Linked DNA regions of Homo sapiens: region 2 is linked to region 1. Evidence: fine-mapped expression QTL. A gene starts in region 1. The other region holds a variant in brackets. All regions are shown on one strand. Distances are between the middles of the regions. Region 1 holds the start of TRIB3 (tribbles pseudokinase 3). Region 2 holds the start of RBCK1 (RANBP2-type and C3HC4-type zinc finger containing 1).

Region 1 (9,588 bases):
TGGCAGAGGTGGTTAGTGGTCCCCAGTTTCAGGTCTCCCCTCCTTACATAGGATTAGAACCTGAGATTTTCAGCTGAGCACAAGGACACCTAGAATAAACTGCATTTCCTGTCTCCCTTGTATCCTTGTATCAGCATATGGCTAGTAGGACACAAGTGGAAGTGTTGTGTACAATGCCCAGGACAGTGTTCTTAAAGGGAGGGCCCAACTTCCTCATTTCCTCCTTTCCTGTATGCTGGAATGTGGACCTAACTGCTGGAGCTCCAGCATCTACCTTGGCTTCAGAAGTACCACATACAGTAGAGCAAGAGAGGAGCCTAGGTCCCTGACACATGGAGTTGTCAGGCCAGACCTCCAGGTTTTTTACACAGGAGAGAAATAAACATCTATTGAAGGCTGGGCGCAGTGGCTCATGCCTGTAATCCCAGCACTTTGGGAGGCCGAGGCAGGCAGATCACAAGGTCAGGAGATCGAGACCATCTTGGCCAACATGGTGAAACCCCATCTCTACTAAACATACAAAAATTAGGTGGGCATGGTGGTGCATGCCTGTAGTCCCAGCTACTCGGGAGGCTGAGGCAGGAGAATCACTTGAGCCTGGGAGGCAGAGGTTGTAGTGAGCTGAGATCTCGCCACTGCACTCCAGCCTGGGGACAGAGCAAGACTCTGTCTCAAAAAAAGAGAAAAAGAAGAAAAAAACGTCTATTTCATTTTAGCTATTAAGTGGCTGTTTCTATATTACAGCTGAGCCTAATCCTAATTAACACACAATAGGATTTGGAATTATCCAAAGGCAGTGGGGAGCCACTGAAGGATTTCAGCAGGGGAACATCATGCTTTTAGGGTGGATTTGAAAGTACAAGACGGGGCAGTGAGACTAGCTAGGAGGCCCACACAAGCACGAGTCCAGGCAGGAGAAGGTGACCTGGACTAGGGGGTGCTAGATGGAGACGCGAAGTTAAGGGCTCATAGGAGGAAGATCAAGAGGACTCAGTGGCAGACTGGATGGACTGGATGGATTGGATGTGAGGGGTGAAGGAGAGGGTGGAATCGAGGTGAGGTCCAGCCTTTGGCTCCTGCAATGAGGAGGGATGATGGCTTCATGTCCTGAGCTGGGGGAGAAGCCTGTATTTTGGGGACTGTGGAAGAAAACTGTTAAGTATTTCAGACCCTTATGTCTTGGCAGTGTCATGAAAAGTGGGTTTATACTGTGGAATAGTGGCAGTGCAGCCACTAACAATGAAGACAGTGCTAGTGGGAGGATAAAAGGTACCACCTCTGAGGAGTGCATTTTGACAATATCAAAATGAAAAACAGGCTGGGTGCAGTGCTTCATGCCTGTAATCCCAGTACTTTGGGAGGCTGAAGCAGGAAGATCACTTGAGCCCAGGAGTTCAAGACCAGCCTAGGCAACGTAGCGAGACCCTGTCCCTAAGAAAAAAAAAATTATCTGGTCATGATGGCACACAGCTGTAGTCCCAGCCATGCAGGAGGTTGAAGTAGGGGAATCACTTGAGCCCAGAAGGTAAAGGCTTCAGTGAGCCATGGTCAGGAACTCTAGCCTGTGCAACAAAGTGAGACTGTCTCAAAACAAAGCAAAACAAAACAAAACAAAAACAACGATGAAAAGCGTGTGAGCTTTGATTCAGCAATTAATCCCATTGCTAAGAATTTATTCTGTAGAGGTGTGTGTGTGTAAGCATGCAAATACACAGTTATTCCTGCAGCCCTTTTGACAGAAATAATTGGCTGTCTATAATTACAGGGCTGGTTACATAAATTATACTTCATCCACACAACGGAACAATGTGCAGCCATTTAAAAGGTTGAGGATGCTCTTTATAGGGTAATTGGAAGGATCTCCAGAGTGAACTGTTAAGTGAAAGGAAAGCCACCATTCACGCAGCTGTGTGACTGTGTGTGTGGTGGCTGAAGGAGAGGGCAGTAGGGCATGGTCAGGGCAGACGGGTTCTCTCTAGAACCCATCTGCCCACCCACTTAAACTCCATTCCAAGGAGGTGCATGCCCAGGTATGGGCATTGGTGCGAGAGACCTCAGCCTGGTTAAAGACCTTCCCAACAGTTCAAGGCAGGATTAACAAGGCAACATGAGTCAGTTACCAGACAGAGGCCCACCTCTCCAAGTACGCTGCTCCCAAATGGAAGAGCTGCCTTGGAAGGGAAGGCCTCCCCACATGAGTGAAAGGTCATGACTTTGGCTTGGTAAGAATGCAGTAAGGAGTGGCTGTAGTCAGATATTCCTGGGTTCTAATCCTGTCTCAAACCCTTTCTAGCTGGGGGGTACCCCTGGTCAAGTTCCTCAAGCTTTCTGAGCCTCAGTTCCTGTAAAGTGGGAACAGGATGCAAAGCTTACAGGTTTTTCGTGATGATGAAATGAAAACACAAATGAAGCATGTAGAGCTTATGGACCTGTTGCCAGGTAGGTGTCAGGAAATGGTCATTATTAGCACTCATCCTGTTATTCTTCACAGCAAGATGCATAAGTACCATCCTTGGGAGTCTTAGAAAGCTCCCCAGGTTCGAGGCTGGGATGACACTCCTTACATCTCAAGGCTGTTCTGAGTCACGCAGGATGATACCTGGCTGTGCACATGCTTTGTGCCCTGTGCAGCAGGAGACTGCCTGGAGTCCCTCTGGCCTGTGCCACATCAGTAGTCCAGGCTGCCTTGGCCCCGGCCATCCCTCAGAGCCTGTTGGGGCCTGGGATAAGCTCCACCCAGATGGGGACAGATGCGGTAACTGAGTCTATACATCTTGGGCAAGGCATTTTGCAGACCACACTGCAGAATAGAATCTGTGATGTGGAATGAAAGCAGCCCCTAATATCTACCTCTTGCTGTTCCCTGCCACACTCGGGACCCAGGGAAATGAGGGCGGGTTACATCAAGCGCAAGCGCGCGCGCGCACGCACACACACACACACACACACACACACAGCCCTCCCAGCTGTCACACCCATGGTCTACCCGAGCAAGGCCGCACCCCCACCCCGCCCCGCCCCCCGCAGCCAGGCCCCTCCCGTGGGAGCCCAAGCGAAAGGCGGCGGGTGTCCGAGTCAGAAGTTTCAGCGGAAATTGAAGCGCGGCCCTGGGACAGGAGGGGGGTGAGGCAGAGGGAAGGAGGTGGCTGTCGTCCCCCGCCCTCCCCGGTCTGCAGGCACAGCACACACCGCAGACACGCGCGCACCGTCCACCTGCAAACCCGGAGCCGCGCACTGGGGAGAACCAGCGGCCCTGCCGGGCCAGAGATCGCGCGCTGCGCCCCCGCTCCCACTCCCTCGGCTCCCCCGCTCCAGGGCACCCCAGCCCTGTCCCGGCGGTGTCCCCTGCACCGCCAACCCCTGCCACCAAGTGCCCAGCCCTCCAGACAGCTCTCACCATCTCCTGAGACACAGGTGCTCGGGACCCACCCTCACCCAGGACTCTCCCCTGCGGGTTCACGAGGACCCCCTCGGATCCCCCGCCACCCCCAGAGTCCTCCAGTGCCCCCCACAAGCCCCTCACCGCACCACACGACTCCCCTATCCCGCACTCACGCAAAACAGACCCCCGCACGCCCTCCTCTAGGGGTGACGGCCGGACACCTCCGTCCCTGGCTTCCCCAGCCCAACTCGGGCGACCCCACGCTCCGCGGGGCCGCGTCACCTGAAGCCCGGGGGGAGCACTCAGCCCAGGCCCGGATCAAAAGGGATCTGACCTGGCCGCGCCCCGACGGCGGGGTCTGTGAAAAGGTGTGTAAGGGGCGTGCGTGCGTGTAACACGCGGCAACACGCAGACGCCCAGAGGCTTCCGGCGCCCCCTTCCCCGGCCGCCCCCTCCCGCCCCCCGGCCTCCGGGCGAGTCCGCAGGCCGCACCCCGCCGAGTACCTCGCCCCGTCGTTCCGCGTGGGCCCGGGCGCCGCCGGGGCTCAGAGCCTCCAGGGCACCAGCAGGTGGGCCGGCCCGCTGCGCTGCTGCCGAGCTCGGGATCCCAGCCCAGCTCCAGCCCTGCCCGGGTCCTAGCAGCGGACGCGCGCGGAGCCGCCTCCACTTCCGCTGCGAGTCTCGTGCGCGCCCGGCCCCCGGTCCGGGTGATGCAAACCGGAGCTAATCCCCCGGTCCGGGTGATGCAAACCGGAGCTAATCCCCCGGTCCGGGTGATGCAAACCGGAGCTAATCAGCCGCCGTCTGATGCCCTCGGGCCCGGGATCGCACCATCCCCCGCGCCGCGCCCGGGCCTCTCTCCTCTGCATCCGCTGCACCTGGGACCCGCCCTCGCTGGCCCCCTAGGGGCGTCTGGTCAGTGCAGACATCAGCCACGGACTCTCCCTATCACCTTGGAAAAAAAATTTGCTCTTTTTTTTTTTTTTTTTGAGACAGAGTCTTGCTCTGTCGCCCAGGCTGGAGGGCGGTGGCGCGATCTCGGCTCACTGCAAGCTCCGCCTCCCGGGTTCACGCCATTCTCCTGCCTCAGCCTCCCGAGTAGCTGGGACTACAGGCGCCCGCACCACGCCCGGCTAATTTTTTGTATTTTTAGTAGAGACGGGGTTTCACCTTGTTAGCCAGGATGGTCTCGATCTCCTGACCTCGTGATCCACCCGCCTCGGCCTCCCAAAGTGCTGGGATTACAGGCGTGAGCCACCGCGCCCGGCCAAAAATTTGCTCTTCTGAGCCTCGGTTTCCCCACCTATGAAATGGGAAGAACATTCCTCCTTCTCAGGATGGTGCTTAAAAGAGCAAACAGTGACTGTTGTCGGGGTGCTTCCCCTTTTTTATAAAGCACATTCCCAGCACTGCCTTATAAAACCTTTAGGAGAAGTGGACATGCGGGAATCTCCATTCTCCACATTCTACTGAGAGCCAGCCTGAGGCCCAGCTATGGGCAAGTGGTTCAGAAGCTTCAGGAAGGCCTATGGACTTAAGAGCTGACTCTGGGCTCAAAGGAACCACCGTGGCGCCCTTGGGAGGCCTAAGGTCTGCTGAGCTTCCCCGCGTCCCTTTGCTAGAGGCAGTGCGGCCTAGTGGTGAAGAGCCCCTAGAGCCAGCTGGCCTAAGAGTGCACTCCACCTCCGCTCCAACCCACAGTGCTACCCCAGAAAAGCTACCTAAAACCCTGCCTCAACTTCCTGCTCCATAAAATGGGCTCATAATTGCGCTCACTTCATAAAGTTGTTGTGAGGATTAAATAATTTAATATGTGTAAGACGCTTAGAACAGTGTGTGGCACATTGCGGATGCTCAGTGGAGTGTAAACAATGGAGACAGAGAGGGAAAGAGGCCTTTAATATGCTTGCACCCAAGGCCTGGGAGGGCTTGGTGCTACTTGATTTGGGGTGAAACACCCCTCTGCGTCCTAGGCGTCCAGCACCTTTCTTTTTTTTTCTTTTTTTGAGGCAGAGTTTCACTCGTTGCCCAGGATTGAGTGCGATGGCACGATCTCGGCTCACTGCAACCTCCACCTCCCGGGTTCAAGCGATTCTCCTGCCTCAGCCTCCCAAGTAGCTGGGATTACAGGCATGCGCTACTATGCCTGGCTAATTTTGTATTTTTAGTAGAGACAGGGTTTCTCCATGTTGGTCAGGCTGGTCTCGAACTCCTGACCTCAGATAATCCACCTGCCTCGGCCTCCCAAAGTGCTGAGATTACAGGCATGAGCCACCGCGCCCGGCCTGGGTCCAGCACCTTTCTTAGAAATCCCTTTTGATCTGAATTCACCAGTGTCAAAAAATAACTCCTCAGCTGGGTGAGCTGGCTCATGTCTGTAATCCTAGCACTTTGGGAGGCCAAGACGGGAGGATTGCTTGAGGCCAGGAGTTTGAGAACAGCCTGGATGACATAGTAAGACCCTGTCTTTACAAAGAGAAAAAGATAGCGGGCATGGTGGTACGAGCTTGTGGTCCCAGCTACTTAGGAAGCTGAGGTAGGAGGATCACTTGAGCCCAGGAGTTCAGGTTACAGTGAAACGTGATTGTGCCACTGCACTCCAGGTTGGGTGACAGAGTGAGATCCTGTGTAATAAATAAATAAGTAAGTAAGTAAAATAACTCCTCTAGAGGCTGGGCGTGGTGGCTTATGCCTGTAATCCCAGCACTTTGGGAGGCTGAGGCAGGTGGATCACGAGGTCGGGAGATCAAGACCATCCTGGCTAACACGGTGAAACCCGTTTCTACTAAAAGTACAAAAAATTACTAAAAATACAAAAAACACACCTGTAGTCCCAGCTACTCGGGAGGCTGAGGCAGGAGAATCGCTTGAACCCAGGAGGCAGGAGTTGCAATGAGCTGAGATTGCGCCATTGCACTCCAGCCTGGGCGACAGAGCAAGACTCCGTCTCAAAAAAAAAAAAAAAGTAAAATAAAATAAAATAACTCCTCTAGGCAGAGGCTGGATGGGAGGCAGGGTGGAGTCATATTTGTTTTCCTGTTTCCAAATCCCTGGGGACCAGCTCACCTGTGTCCCAGAGCCTTCAGGGTATACCAGGGCATTCTGGGATCTCATTTAATCCTGGCAACTCCCCTGCTGGGGAGGGGTGAATAAACTCATCCTCTATCCTGGGACACCGAAATGGTTAGGAAGATCCCACAGCTGTGAGGGGTGAAGAAAGGTGGGAGGGCTGTTTCCTGAGCACCCCTCTGAAGGTGTGCTGGGTTTGCTTGTACATTCCCAACTAACGTTGTTTTGTGCTGTGTCAGCCCCTGTTCTAAATGCTGGGGACTCAGCAGTGACCAGAATGATCCACCCCTGCTCTTACAAATCTTATAAATCAGTGGAGAGATAGACCATTATCAGGAAAATAAAATTAAAACCATGATCATTTAAAATAGATTGCATCATGCATTTTCTTGAATAAAATAGGAAAGACTTGTTCTCCGTCATGACTGAGGGTGGCCATTTTCAGCAGGGCTTATCAGAAAGGTGATGTTTAAACTAAAAGCTGAGGGAAGAGAAGGGGTGAAGAGTGCAAAGATGTGAAAGGGAGACAGAGAAAAACAGTAAGTCACCTCCATTCTGCAGACAAGAAGAGTTAAGGTAAGGGACCTACCCAAGACCACCCAGCTGGTCGTATAAGACTGATTTCAGGCTGGGCGCGGTGGCTCACGCCTGTAATCCCAACACTTTGGGAGGCTGAGGCAGGCGGATCACCTGAAGTCAGGAGATGGAGACCAGCCTGGCTAAGGTGGTGAAACCCGGTTTCTGCTAAGAATACAAAAATTTAGCCGGGCGTGATGGCATGTACCTGTAATCCCAGCTACTCGGGAGGCTGAGACAGGAGAATCGCTTGAACCCAGGAGGCGGAGGTTGCAGTGAGCCAATTGCGCCACTGCATTCCAGCTTGGGCAACAAGAGTGAAACTGCATCTCAAAAAAAAAAAAAAAACAAAAAGACTGATTTCAGATTTGAACTTGGGGCAGCTGACTCCAGTGCCCATGCCATCCTGGGATATTTCACGAGCTTTGTATCCCTGCAGCCTCCACATGGACCTATGGGTATCGTGACAGGAACGGCACCCTGGGTATGGCCCCCAAATTTTGGTGACTTGTCACAGCTGGGTTTGTCAAATCCCAATTCTCTAGACCATTCTGTGTTCCAATAGAAATATAATGTGAGGCTGGGCGCAGTGGCTCATGCCTGTAATCCCAGCACTTTGGGAGGCGGAGGTGGGTGGATCATGAGGTCAGAAGATCAAGATCGTCCTGGCTAACACAGTGAAACCCTGTCTCTACTAAAAATACAAAAATTTGCCGGGCATGGTGGCACACACCTGTAATCCCAGCTACTCGGGATGTTGAGGCAGGAGAATCACTTGACCCCGGGAGGCGGAGGTTGCAGTGAGCCGAGATCATGACACTGCACTCTGACCTGGGCGACAGAGTGAGACTCCATCTCAAAAAAAAAAAAAAAAATTAAAATATTCAATAAAATAAAAAATTCTCAGTCACACTAGCCACATTAGCCATACTTGAAGTGCTCAATAACCACATGTGGCAAATGGCTACTGCTATGGTTTAAATGTGTCCCCCAAATGTCATGTGCTGGAAACTTAATCCCCCAATGTGGCAGTACTGAGCGGTTGGGACTTTTAAGAAGTGATTGGATCATGAAGCCTCTGCCCTTATGAATGGACTAACCCACTCATGGATTAATGGATTTGTGGGTTTTCACAGGAGGAGAACTGGTGGCTTTATAAGAAGAGGAAGAGAGACCAAAGCATAGCATGTCAGCATGCCCAGTCCCCTCTCCACGCTATACCCTGTGCCACCTCCAGACACTTCAGAGACCAGGAATAAGGCCCTCACCAGAAGTGCCCCCTCAATCTTGGACTTCCTATCCTCCATAGCTGTAAGGAATAAATTCCTTTTCTTTCAAAATTGTTCAGTTTCAGACATTCTGTTATAAGCAACAGAAAACAGACTAAAACCACTACCATATTGAGCACTACCACCCTGTACCAAGAATTCCTAACACATGGTCCAGGGGTACAGCAGAGGCAAAGAGTCTAGGTAGGCTGGAGTTTGGCTCCTAGATCTACACCAGAAACACCAAATAGCCTCAAGCCTCAGTTTCTGCATCTATAAAATGCAGTTAATTATACCTCCCTTGCATTGCAGTCATAAGGATTCAATGCATTGGGACTGCCTCATGTCATAGTTGTATCACATTTCTTGGGTTCAAAACCACATCTATTTTGGAAAAGTTACTTCAGCTCTTTGTACTTCAGTTTCCCCATCTGTAAAATGGGGATAACAATAGTTCCTACCTCGTTGGTTTGCATGAGAATTAAATGACAATATTTGTAAAGTGACTGGAATATAAATGCTATATAAGCATTTATTTAGAAGCGAGGAAAAGAATGGTGACCAACCTCCCAAAATTAAATGCAGAAATGTACTCTTTTCTGGAGAGAGAGTCAGGCTTTTATGAATTTCTTTCTCCAGGCTCAGAACATCTTTCTACTCAGATTTCTGAGCCCAGAAGGCTGCTTTTCTCTTTCCTATAGGTTTGGTTTTTTGTTTGTTTGTTTGTTTTTTTGAGGCAGTGTCTCGCTCTGCTGCCCAGGCTGGAGGGAAGTGGCATGTGATCTTGGCTCACTGCAACCTCTGCCTCCCGGGTTCAAGCAATTCTCCTGCCTCAGCTCCCTGAGTAGCTGGCATTACAGGTGTGGACTACCACACCTGGCTAATGTTTTTGTATTTTTAGTAGAGACGGGGTTTCACCAAGTTGGCCACGCTGGTCTCGAACTCCTGACCTTAAATGATCCGCCCACCTTGGCCTCCTAAACTGCTGGGATTATAGGCGTGAGCCACTGTGCCCGGCCTCTTTGCTATAGTTCTGATGAGTTCCGTCTCTGACCCCCAGCACTGATGTGGGGCCCACAGCAATGACATGAGCCATGCCTGCCTCCTTTCCTTCCACATGGGTGTCCCTAGTGATTGCCATATGCCTAAAATTCCACCATAGGTGTCCTTGAAACTTTTCATCTTCATACATTTCCCCCACAAAAGTGACATGATGCCTTAGAACTTCTGGTTGCGTTCCAAGTCTGGCTGAAGCCACTGAGCCTGTGAGATTGTGGACAAGTCACCTCCCTT
Region 2 (9,419 bases), 29 kb before region 1:
TTTTTTTTTTTTTTTTTGGTGATTTGTCTCTTATCTTTTTAAAGCAATCAGCTTATTTTCACAGAAACAACTCTTTCAGCGCTCATGTTTTATTAATTAATGTAATAGCTAAGTAAACTATGTTATTACCAATAACACATACAACAGGTATCATTTGCTAGGAAGCATCGGGTCCATCGATGAGAACCCAACAGCAGGTCTGAGAGGTGCCGGTTGCCCAGAGCCTCTCAAAACTCAGGTTCTGACCCAGCAAGTCTGAGGTGAGACCTGAGATTCCCCCCATGTTGTGGTCCACAGGCCACACTTTAGTAGCAAGATGGTGGCTGACATTGTACATTTTACAAAGGAAACGCCAGTGCCAGTTAGTTAATTCAGGGGATCAAGTGGAAGTCAACTGGGAAAGTGTCCACAATGATACTTCAACAAAAAAAGTAAGGAAAAGGAAAGGTGGAAGATGAGTATGTTAACTTCCTCATTTTTCATAGCAAGGAGTACACAGGTACTGTCTCAAGCAATCATTTCAAGAAGTAGATATCTCAATATTTTGTTTAAAATCAAGTGGCCAATGATCTACAGATTCAATGAAATCCCTACCAAAATTCCCAGTTGTTGTTGTTTTTTTTTTGCAGAAACAGACAAGCTGATCGTAAAATTTATATGGAAATTCAAGAGACTTGCAATAACCAAAACAATATTGAAAAAGAACAAAAGTTGGAGAACTTGTATTTCCTGATTTCAAATACTATGAAGCTATAGTAATTAGTGTGGTACTGGCGTAAGGGCAGATATATATTATAGTTCAATGGTATAGAAATGAGAGTCCAGAAATAAGCACTCACATTTATGGTCAATTAATTTCCAAAAAGGGTTAAGATGATTAAACAGAGGAAAACAGCCTTAACAAATAGTGCCGGCACAACTCAATATCCACGTGCAAAAGAATGAAGCTGGACCCTTACCTCACACCTTATATAAAAATTAAATCAAAATGGACCAAAGACCTAAATGTAAGAGCTAAAACCATAAAATCTTTAGAAGAAAATATAGAGGTAAATCTTCATGACCTTGGATGAGGCAACGATTTCTTAGATATGACACCAAAAGCACAAACAACAAAATAAAACATAGACTAACTGGACATCATCAAAATTTAAAACTTTTGTGGTTCAAAGGATACCATCAACAAAGTGAGAAGACAATCCACAGAATGAGAGAAAATTTTTGCAAATCATGTAGCTGATAAGCTAAAATGAATAAAGTACTTCTAGCTAAAATGAATAAAGTACTCCTACAACTCAATATAAAAACATAAACCCAGCCGGGTGCAGTGGCTCATGCCTGTAATCCCAACACTTTGGAAAGGCCAAGGTGGGTGGATCACCTGAGGTCAGGAGTTCAAGACCAGCCTGGCCAACATGGTAAGACCCGTCTCTACTAAAAATACAAAAATTAGCCAGTGTAGTGGTGGGCACCTGTAATCCAGCTACTCAGGAGGCTGGGGCAGGAGAATCACTTGAACCTGGGAGGCGGAGGTTGCAGTGAGCCGAGATTGCACCATTGCACTCCTGCTTGGGTGACAGAGCGAGACTCCATCTCAAAAAAAAAAAAAGATAAACCCAATTTTAAAATGGGCAAAAGACCTGAATAGGCAAACCTCCAAAGAAAATATGTGCATGAAAAGATGCTTAACATCATTTGTCATCAAATGGTTAGGAAATTGCAAATCAAAACCACAGTGAGATACCTCTTCAAACTTACTAGGATGGCTATAATCAAAAAGATAAACAACAACAAGTATTAGAGATGATGTGGAGAAACTAGAACCCTCATATATGCTGGTGGGAATGTAAAATGGTGCAGCCACTTTGGAAAACTGTCTGGCATTTCTTCAAAAAGTAACATAGAGTTACTGTATGACCCAGCAATTCCACTGCTAGTGTGTATCCAAGAGAAATGAAAACGTGTCCACACAAAAAGTTGGACACAAATGTTCACGGCAGCATTGTTTATAATAGCCAAAAAATAGAAACACCCAAATGTCCATCAACTGATTTAATGAGTAAAGATAATGAGATATGTCTATACAATAGATTATTATTTGGCAATAAAAAGGAATAAAGTTCTGGTTGGGCATGGTGGCTCACACCTGTAATCCCAGCACTTTGAGAGGCTGAGGTGGGAAGACTGCTTAAGCCAGAAGTTCAAGACCAGCCCAGACAACAAAGCAAGACCTTATCTCTACAGACTTTCTAAAAATTAGCCAGGTGTGGCTGGGTGTGGTGGCTCACGCCTGTAGTCCCAGCACATTGGGAGGCATAGGCGGGCGGATCACGAGGTCAGGAGATGGAGACCATCCTGGTTAACACGGCGAAACCCCGTCTCTACTAAAAATACAAAAAATTAGCTGGGCGTGGTGGCGGGCGCCTGTAGTCCCAGCTACTCGGGAAGCTGAGGCAGGAGAATGGCGTGAACCTGGGAGGTGGAGCTTGCAGTGAGCTGAGATCGCGCCACTGCACTCCAGCCTGGGGGACAGAGTGAGACTCCCATCTCAAAGAAAAAAAAAATTAGCCGGGTGTGGTGGTACATGCCAGTAGTCCCAGCTACCTGGGAGGCCAAGGCAGGAGGACTGCTTGAATCCAGGAAGTTGAGGCTGTAGTGAGCGATGATGGCACCACTGCACTTCAACCTAGACAAGAGACCCCATGTCAAAAAAAAAAAGGGGAATGAAGTTGTTAGACATGCTACAACATGGATGAATCTCGAAAACGATCCTAAGTGAAAGAAGCCAGATACAAAAGGCCACATATTGCATGATTCAACTTATATGGAATTTCCAGAAGGTAGATCCCTAGAGATAAAAAGTAGATTAGTGGTTGCCTAAGGTTGGGGAGTTAGGGAAAAGGTAGAGAGATGAGGACTGGCTGCTAATGAGTACCAGGTTTCTTTACAGGATGATGAAAATGTTCTAAAATTGATTGTGGCAATGGTTGCACAACCTTGAATATACTAAAAGCCATTGAACTGTATACTTTAAATGGTCGAACTGTAAGGATAAATAAATAAATAAAACTGTTTTAAGAAAAACCAAATGGGACCCACCAAGAGAACCAAAAATCAGAAACCATAAAACTATTGCCTTACTATCCAGTAATGAAAAAGCAGTCAAAAAATAACGATAGACACTAATGTTTATTATTGAGTGCATAACACGCCAGGCATTGTGCAAAGTGTTTCAGCATTGAGTTTAAGTCTCCTGGAGCACAGACCGACAGTATCCATTCTCTTCCCTTCCCTTACCAAGCGAACCCCTGAATTCTAGCTGAATATCTTGGCTATACAGTCTCCCCTCAAGCTGAACTGTAGCTGTGGGAATCAGTTCTGGTCCACAGGAATTAACGGAAGAAGTGTGTACAATTTTTGAGCTATGCTCTTTAGAAGAGTGTGGAGGGGTGTCTTTCTTCCCTTCCTCCTGTGATGTGATGGCTGGATGGAGCTGGAATGGCCATTTTGCACCATGAGGAATCTGGGAATGAATGGCAGAATGGTGAGAGAAACAATATGAGCCTCTGAGGACTGTCGGGAGCAGAACCTCCCTATCTGGACTCCCTGCCATCAAATTTGTTTACGTCACTGTTCCGTTTTCTTCTGTTGTATAAGGCCTAACATCCTAATACAGTACACCTCCTAACAACCCTATGAGATAGCTACTGTTACGGTCTGATTTTTAAAATGAGGACACACTGAGAGGTGAAGTGACCTGCTCTGTATTTCACAGTTGATTAATGACATAACTAGGGTTAGAAGCCAGGCCTCCTGAAGCCAGAACGTGCCATTAGGAAGAACTGTTCTACAGGCAAGAATATCCTGTCCTGCTGTCCCTTGGGTTCAGGCCAGCCATGCACTCCTCACCTGATGTCCTGCGTTGGGGAGACCTCAGGCTTCAGTTGCACACTCAGGGGCACCCGTTGCTCTGCCAGCCAGATGGCACACTTCATTGCCACCTGTTCATCCCCGCCCGCCACTGCTCGGGTGAGGCTCAGGGCCATTTCCTCTGCTGAAAGCCAGTACAGCAGGAGCCAGTTAGCACAGGGTTTATTTTCAGGAGCTGAGAGTAATGGGGTAGGAAAGGAGGCGATCCTTTGTGTGTGCTGCTTTCTCTGTCTTCCTGGTGAACTCCTACGTATCCTTCAGCACCCAGACTAAAAGTCCCTTTCTCCGGGAGGGGTTCTCTAATATTCCCCACTCCTCCTCACACTAGGCTCATTTGGTTGTTTGTCCTTCCCATTCCCAGGGTCCCTCATATTTCTATTCATTTATCCAACAAGCAGTTATTGAGCTTCTACTGTGTGCCACCCACTGTCCCAGGAACTGGAATCCCACAGAGATTTATAAACAGGGCCCCTCTCCTTATGGATCTCCCTGCCCAGTGGGGAGACAATGAACAAGTTTAACAAGAAAAAAAAAAAAAGTCAGATTGCGATCCTTGCTGGCAGGGAAATAAACAGGTTAAGGAGACCAGGGGAGGCCTCTGGGAGGGGGTAACACTGAAGCTAAGACCTGAAGGAGGAGAAGCTGCACGTGTCAAGCTCCAGTG[G/A]GGAAGAGTGGTCCAGGTGGAAGGAAGAGTAAGGGCCTTGGCCAAAAAATGGTTGGATGAGAACCGAAGGAAGCCAGTGGGGCTCCAGTAGAGTGAGCATGGCGGGGTGACTGAGGACAGATATCCTGTGGGCCACCCAGGGCCTCTGGGTTTTGTTTGGAGAACACAGAGGGGCATGGGAGGGTTTCCAGCAAGGCAGTGACTGACTTCCGTTCTACAACCCTAGGTGCAGGGGACAAGAGAAGAGGCAAGTACCCCTGCTTCTCAGGTCAACTGACGTCTGTCTCCCACCAGCCCAGGAGGTCTCCAAGTTCAATGCCCTGTGTCCTCTGCGAGTCCCCTAGCCCCATCTCAGCACAGAGCCAGCCCAAGGAGTTCTCAGGGCCCCAAGATGGCTCTGGAAGCCAGCAGGTACCAAAGGAGGAAACTGATGGGGAGGAGGGTAGAGGGAGGGCAGGCTAAAGCCCCCTCTCCAAGGCCCTTCTGGCCAGGGGCAAGGCCAGGTCCTGCGGGGCCCACTTCCCACCGGAAGTTCCCCAGCCACCTCCAGCCTGTGCCCACCTTTCTTGGTCTTCTCGTCCATCTGGCGTGGCTGTGCCCATCCCCCTGGGGGGGACCGTGCCTCCTGGGAAATGCTACCTCCGGGTCGCCTGGGAGAGGCGGGAGACCAGGAGCAACTCAGCCAGGCCGTGTGGCCTCCGGCGCGGCCCAAGCCCTGTGTGTGCCTCGCTGTCCCCGCGGCAGTCGGGAAGCATCACACTGCCCGGTGACCAGGCCGGGATCCTGCGTGGGGCGGTGAGAGGGCAGCGGGCGCCGAGACAGGTCCGCACTGGGCGCAGGAGGAAACGGGACCAGCCGAGGTGGGAAGAAGCGGGGAAAGGACGCCCGGACACCACCCAGCCGGGGCGTTCCAAGTCCCGGAGGACCCCCACTTGCGGGAGCGCCCCTGGCGTCCCGGGTTTCAAGGCAAAGCCCTCTCTCCTCCCGGGAGGCCCCAGTTCTTCGCAAGGGGAGCGGCTTCGGCGGAAGAGAAAGTGAAAGTGGCGGCCCCGGAAGTGGGGCGGGACTGGGAGGGGGGGCCGGAAAAATTGTCGCCTCATCCGGGACCTCCACTGCCCGGCTACCCGGCGGCGGCGGACGCCGAGTGCGGGGTCCCAGCGGTCCCGGCGCTCCTGTTTGGGGCGACCCCACCCCGTCCTCCGGGGCTGATCGCGGGTCCCCGGACTCCCGCCCGGGTCACCCTGCGGGCCGCATCGCAGAGCCGCGGGAAGGAGCTGGGCCGCAGGCGGGGTGGGCGGGGCCGGGGCGGGGCCGGGGGCGGGGCCGGGGGGGCCGGGGGCTGGGGGCGGGGCCGGGGTGGGCCGGGGGCCGGGGCCGGGGCCGGGGGCGGGGCCGGGGGCAGGAGCAGGAGCCTGAGCAGGAGTCGGCGCCGGAGCCGGGGCTGGAGGGCGGCGGGATCCACAGCGTCGAGCCGCTGGGGACGGGTTAGGAGCGCGCCCTGCGAGCCCGGCGCCTGCTCACCCAAGCCTCAGGCATACCTCGGGGCAGGCCCGGTCCTTGGCCCCGTTTGCACATGAATAAACGAAGGCTCTGTTTGTTGATGACCTGTCCAAGGCCACTCAGCCGAGGTTTGAATCCAGGCCTGGCAGGCTCAGGAACCCGCCCTTACCCAGATCCGACGCTGCCTCTCAGCGGTCACCGTCTGTCTTTTCGTTGAGCTATTGGTGAAGTTTGCATTCGTCTGCCTCATGCGCCGCTTTAATTTTTCTCCCGTTCCTCGTCCCATCGATCAGCAGATCCTGCGGGCTCCACTTGCAGAATCTCATCCCTCACCTCCTCCGGCCCCATCCCGCTCCAGCTCCATCAGTGCTCCATCATCTCAGGGGTCTTGAACCAGCCTCCTCCTGGGCCTCCTTGCTTCTCTTTTTGCCCCCTACCGTCCATTTCCACCTAGCTGCCGGAGAGTCCTGTTAAAATGTAAATCAAACCCATGCCACTCCCCGACCCAAGTACTCCCATCTCACTTAAAGCAAAATCCGAGATCTGTCCCAGGGCTCGCAAATTGCCTCCCGATCTCTGTCTTCGTAGCTGACTGCCCTGCCCCTGCCTCATTCCACTCAAGTCCCATTGACCTGCTGGGTCCTGGAGTAAGTCAGACACACTCCCGCCCTAAGGCCTTTGCACCTGCCATAACCCAAACGTCTGCATGGCTCCCTCCTTCCCTTTATTTTGGTCTTTACCCAAAAATCTTCCCTAGTTACTCCATCTGAAATTTCACAGACACACGTATCCAGCATTTCACATCCGCTTTCCTGGCTTCATTTTTTCTTCTCAGCATCTATTACTGTCTAACGGAGCATGTTTTACTTATTTATGTTATTCTGGGTCTGTTTTCCTCTCCTAGAGGGCAGGGACTTTGGTTTGTTTTGCTCACTGCTGTGTTCCTGGTGTCTAGAACAGTTCCAAACACATAATGGAGGCTCCATATGTTGAATGAAGGAATGAACCTCAGACCTTCATCTGGGATAATTTTTCTTTTGCCGGAAACACATCCCTTTAGACAATGTTTCTTAACTTTGGCTGTACATTTGAATGGCCTGGGGAAGCCTTTTTTTTTTTTTTTTTTTTTTTTGAGATGGAGTTTCACTCTTGTTGCCCAGGCTGGAGTGCAGTGGCGTGATCATGGCTCACTACAGCCTCCAACTCCTGGGCTCAGCTTCCCGAGTAGCTGCAAACCACGGGCACGTGCCACCACAGCTGGCTAATTTTTGTAGAGACAGGGTTTGGTCATGTTGCCCAGGCTGGTCTTGAACTCCTGGGCTCAAATGATCTGCCCACCTCGGCCTCCCAAAATGCTGGGAAATGGTTGCTGTTGAGATATCATCACCTGTCAATCTAACTGCTGTTCTTTTTATAAACAGCTTTATTGAGATATCATCACCTGTCAATCTAACTGCTGTTCTTTTTATAAACAGCTTTATTGAGATATAATTTATATGCCATAAAATCCACCCACCTAAAATATACAATTCAATAGTTTTTAGTAACATTTACAGAATTGTACACCCATCATCACAATCAAATTTTAGGACATTTTTGGCTGAGCATGGTGGCTCACACCTACAATCCCAGCACTTTGAGAGGCCGAGGTGGGCGGATCACTTGAGGTCAGGAGTTCGAGACCAGCCTGGCCAACATGGTGAAACCCTGTCTCTACTAAAAATACAAAAATTAGCCAGGTGTGGTGGCGGACATCTGTAATCCTAGCTACTGCAGAGCCTGAGGCATGAGAATGGCTTGAACCTGGGAGGCAGAGGTTGCAGTGAGCTGAGATCGCACCGTTGTACTCCAGCCTGCGTGATAGAGCGAGACTCTGTCTCAGACCAAAAAAAAAAAAAGAAAGAAAGAACATTCTTATCACCCCAAAATAGACCTGTACTCATTAGCAGACATTCCCTGTTTCCCATCCTCCAACTGACAGCACTAATATACTTTATGTCTCTATAGACTTTCCTCTTCTTGATATTTTATAGAAATTAGATCTTACTGATGGGCCACAGTGGCTCATGCCAGTAATCCCAGCACTTGGGGAGGCCAAGCCAGGTGGATCGCTTGAGCCCAGGAATTCAAGACCAGCCTGGGCAACATGGTGAAACCCCATCTCTACAAAAAATACAAAAATTAGCCGAGTGTGATGGCGTGCACCTGTAGAGCAGTGATCGTCCCACTGCACTCCAGCCTGGGTGACAGAGTGAGACCCTGTCTCAAAAAGAAAATTAGATTTTGACAATATGTGAACCTTTGTGACTGGCTTCTTTCACTTGGCATAACTTTGGGGTTTTTCTTGACATAACGTTTTTGAGGTTTATCCATGTTGTAGTACTGGTTTTTTGTTTGTTTTTTGTTGTTGTTGTTTTGGGGTTTTTTTGTTTTGTTTTGTTTTTTGTTTTTAGAATCTCTGATTCTTTTCCTCTGAGTGCTTTTAAGAGTTTTTTAAAAAAAATCTTTGGCTTTTTGCACTTTTACTATGATGTGTCTATGTGTAAAATTTATGGAGTTTCTTGAATCTGTGATTGGTGTCTGATTTCTGTCTCACTAATTCCCTCTTTAGCCATATCTAGTTTGCTGTTTAGCCCATCTTTTAAATTTAATTTGTGTGTGTGTGTGTGTGTGTGTGTGTGTGTGACAGAGTTTCACTCTTGTTGCCCAGGCTGGAGTGCAAATGGCACGATCTTAGCTCACTGCAACCTCTGCCTCCCGGGTTCAGGTGATTCTCCTGCCTCAGCCTCCTGAGTAGCTGGGATTACAGGTGTCTGCCACCACTCCTGGCTAATTTTTTGTATTTTTAGTAGAGACAGGGTTTCACCATGTTGGCCAGGCTGGTCTCGAACTCCTGACCTCAAGTGATCCACCCACTTCGGCTTCCCAAAGTGCTGGGATTACAGGTGTGAGCCACTGTGCCTGGCCTAAAAATTTTGATTATTGTATTATTTTATTTTAGAAGTTCTGTTAGGTTATTTTAAAATTTGTTGTCATGTGATATAATTTTCTATACTTTGGCAATGTTTCTAGGTTATTTATTTATTTAAACGCAGTAAACTTTTTTTTTTTTTAGACAGAGTTTCGCTCTTGTTGCCCAGGCTGGAGTGAGATGGTGCGATCTCAGCTCACTGCAACCTCTCCCTCCCGGGTACAAGCGATTCTCCTACCTCAGCCTCCTGAAGTACCTGGGATTACAGGAGCCTGCCACCAGGCCCAGCTAATTTTTTTGTATTTTTATTTGAGACGGGGTTTCCCCATGTTGGTCAGGCTGGTCTTGAACTCT

Evidence for each region. PIP is the estimated chance that this variant, and not a neighbour inherited with it, causes the effect.
Region 2: its variant is fine-mapped to the expression of TRIB3 in whole blood (TOPMed, PIP above 0.99).

The regions. Positions count from the first base shown.
Region 1 is chr20:375,468-385,055 of GRCh38, reverse strand. It overlaps TRIB3 (tribbles pseudokinase 3), which reads right to left and starts at 4,296. Exons shown (of 4, transcript NM_021158.5): 1 at 3,887-4,296. RefSeq lists an enhancer at 2,179-3,177 and silencers at 2,863-3,452, 3,723-3,832, 3,853-4,012.
Region 2 is chr20:404,516-413,934 of GRCh38, reverse strand. RBCK1 (RANBP2-type and C3HC4-type zinc finger containing 1) reads right to left here and starts at 5,636. Exons shown (of 12, transcript NM_031229.4): 1 at 5,156-5,636; 2 at 3,910-4,054. The coding sequence starts at 5,177. RefSeq lists enhancers at 4,659-4,728, 4,739-4,838, 4,899-4,998, 4,408-5,048, 5,049-5,098 and 1 more and silencers at 5,669-5,938, 7,762-7,918. The variant G/A (reference allele first, on the strand shown) is at 4,595.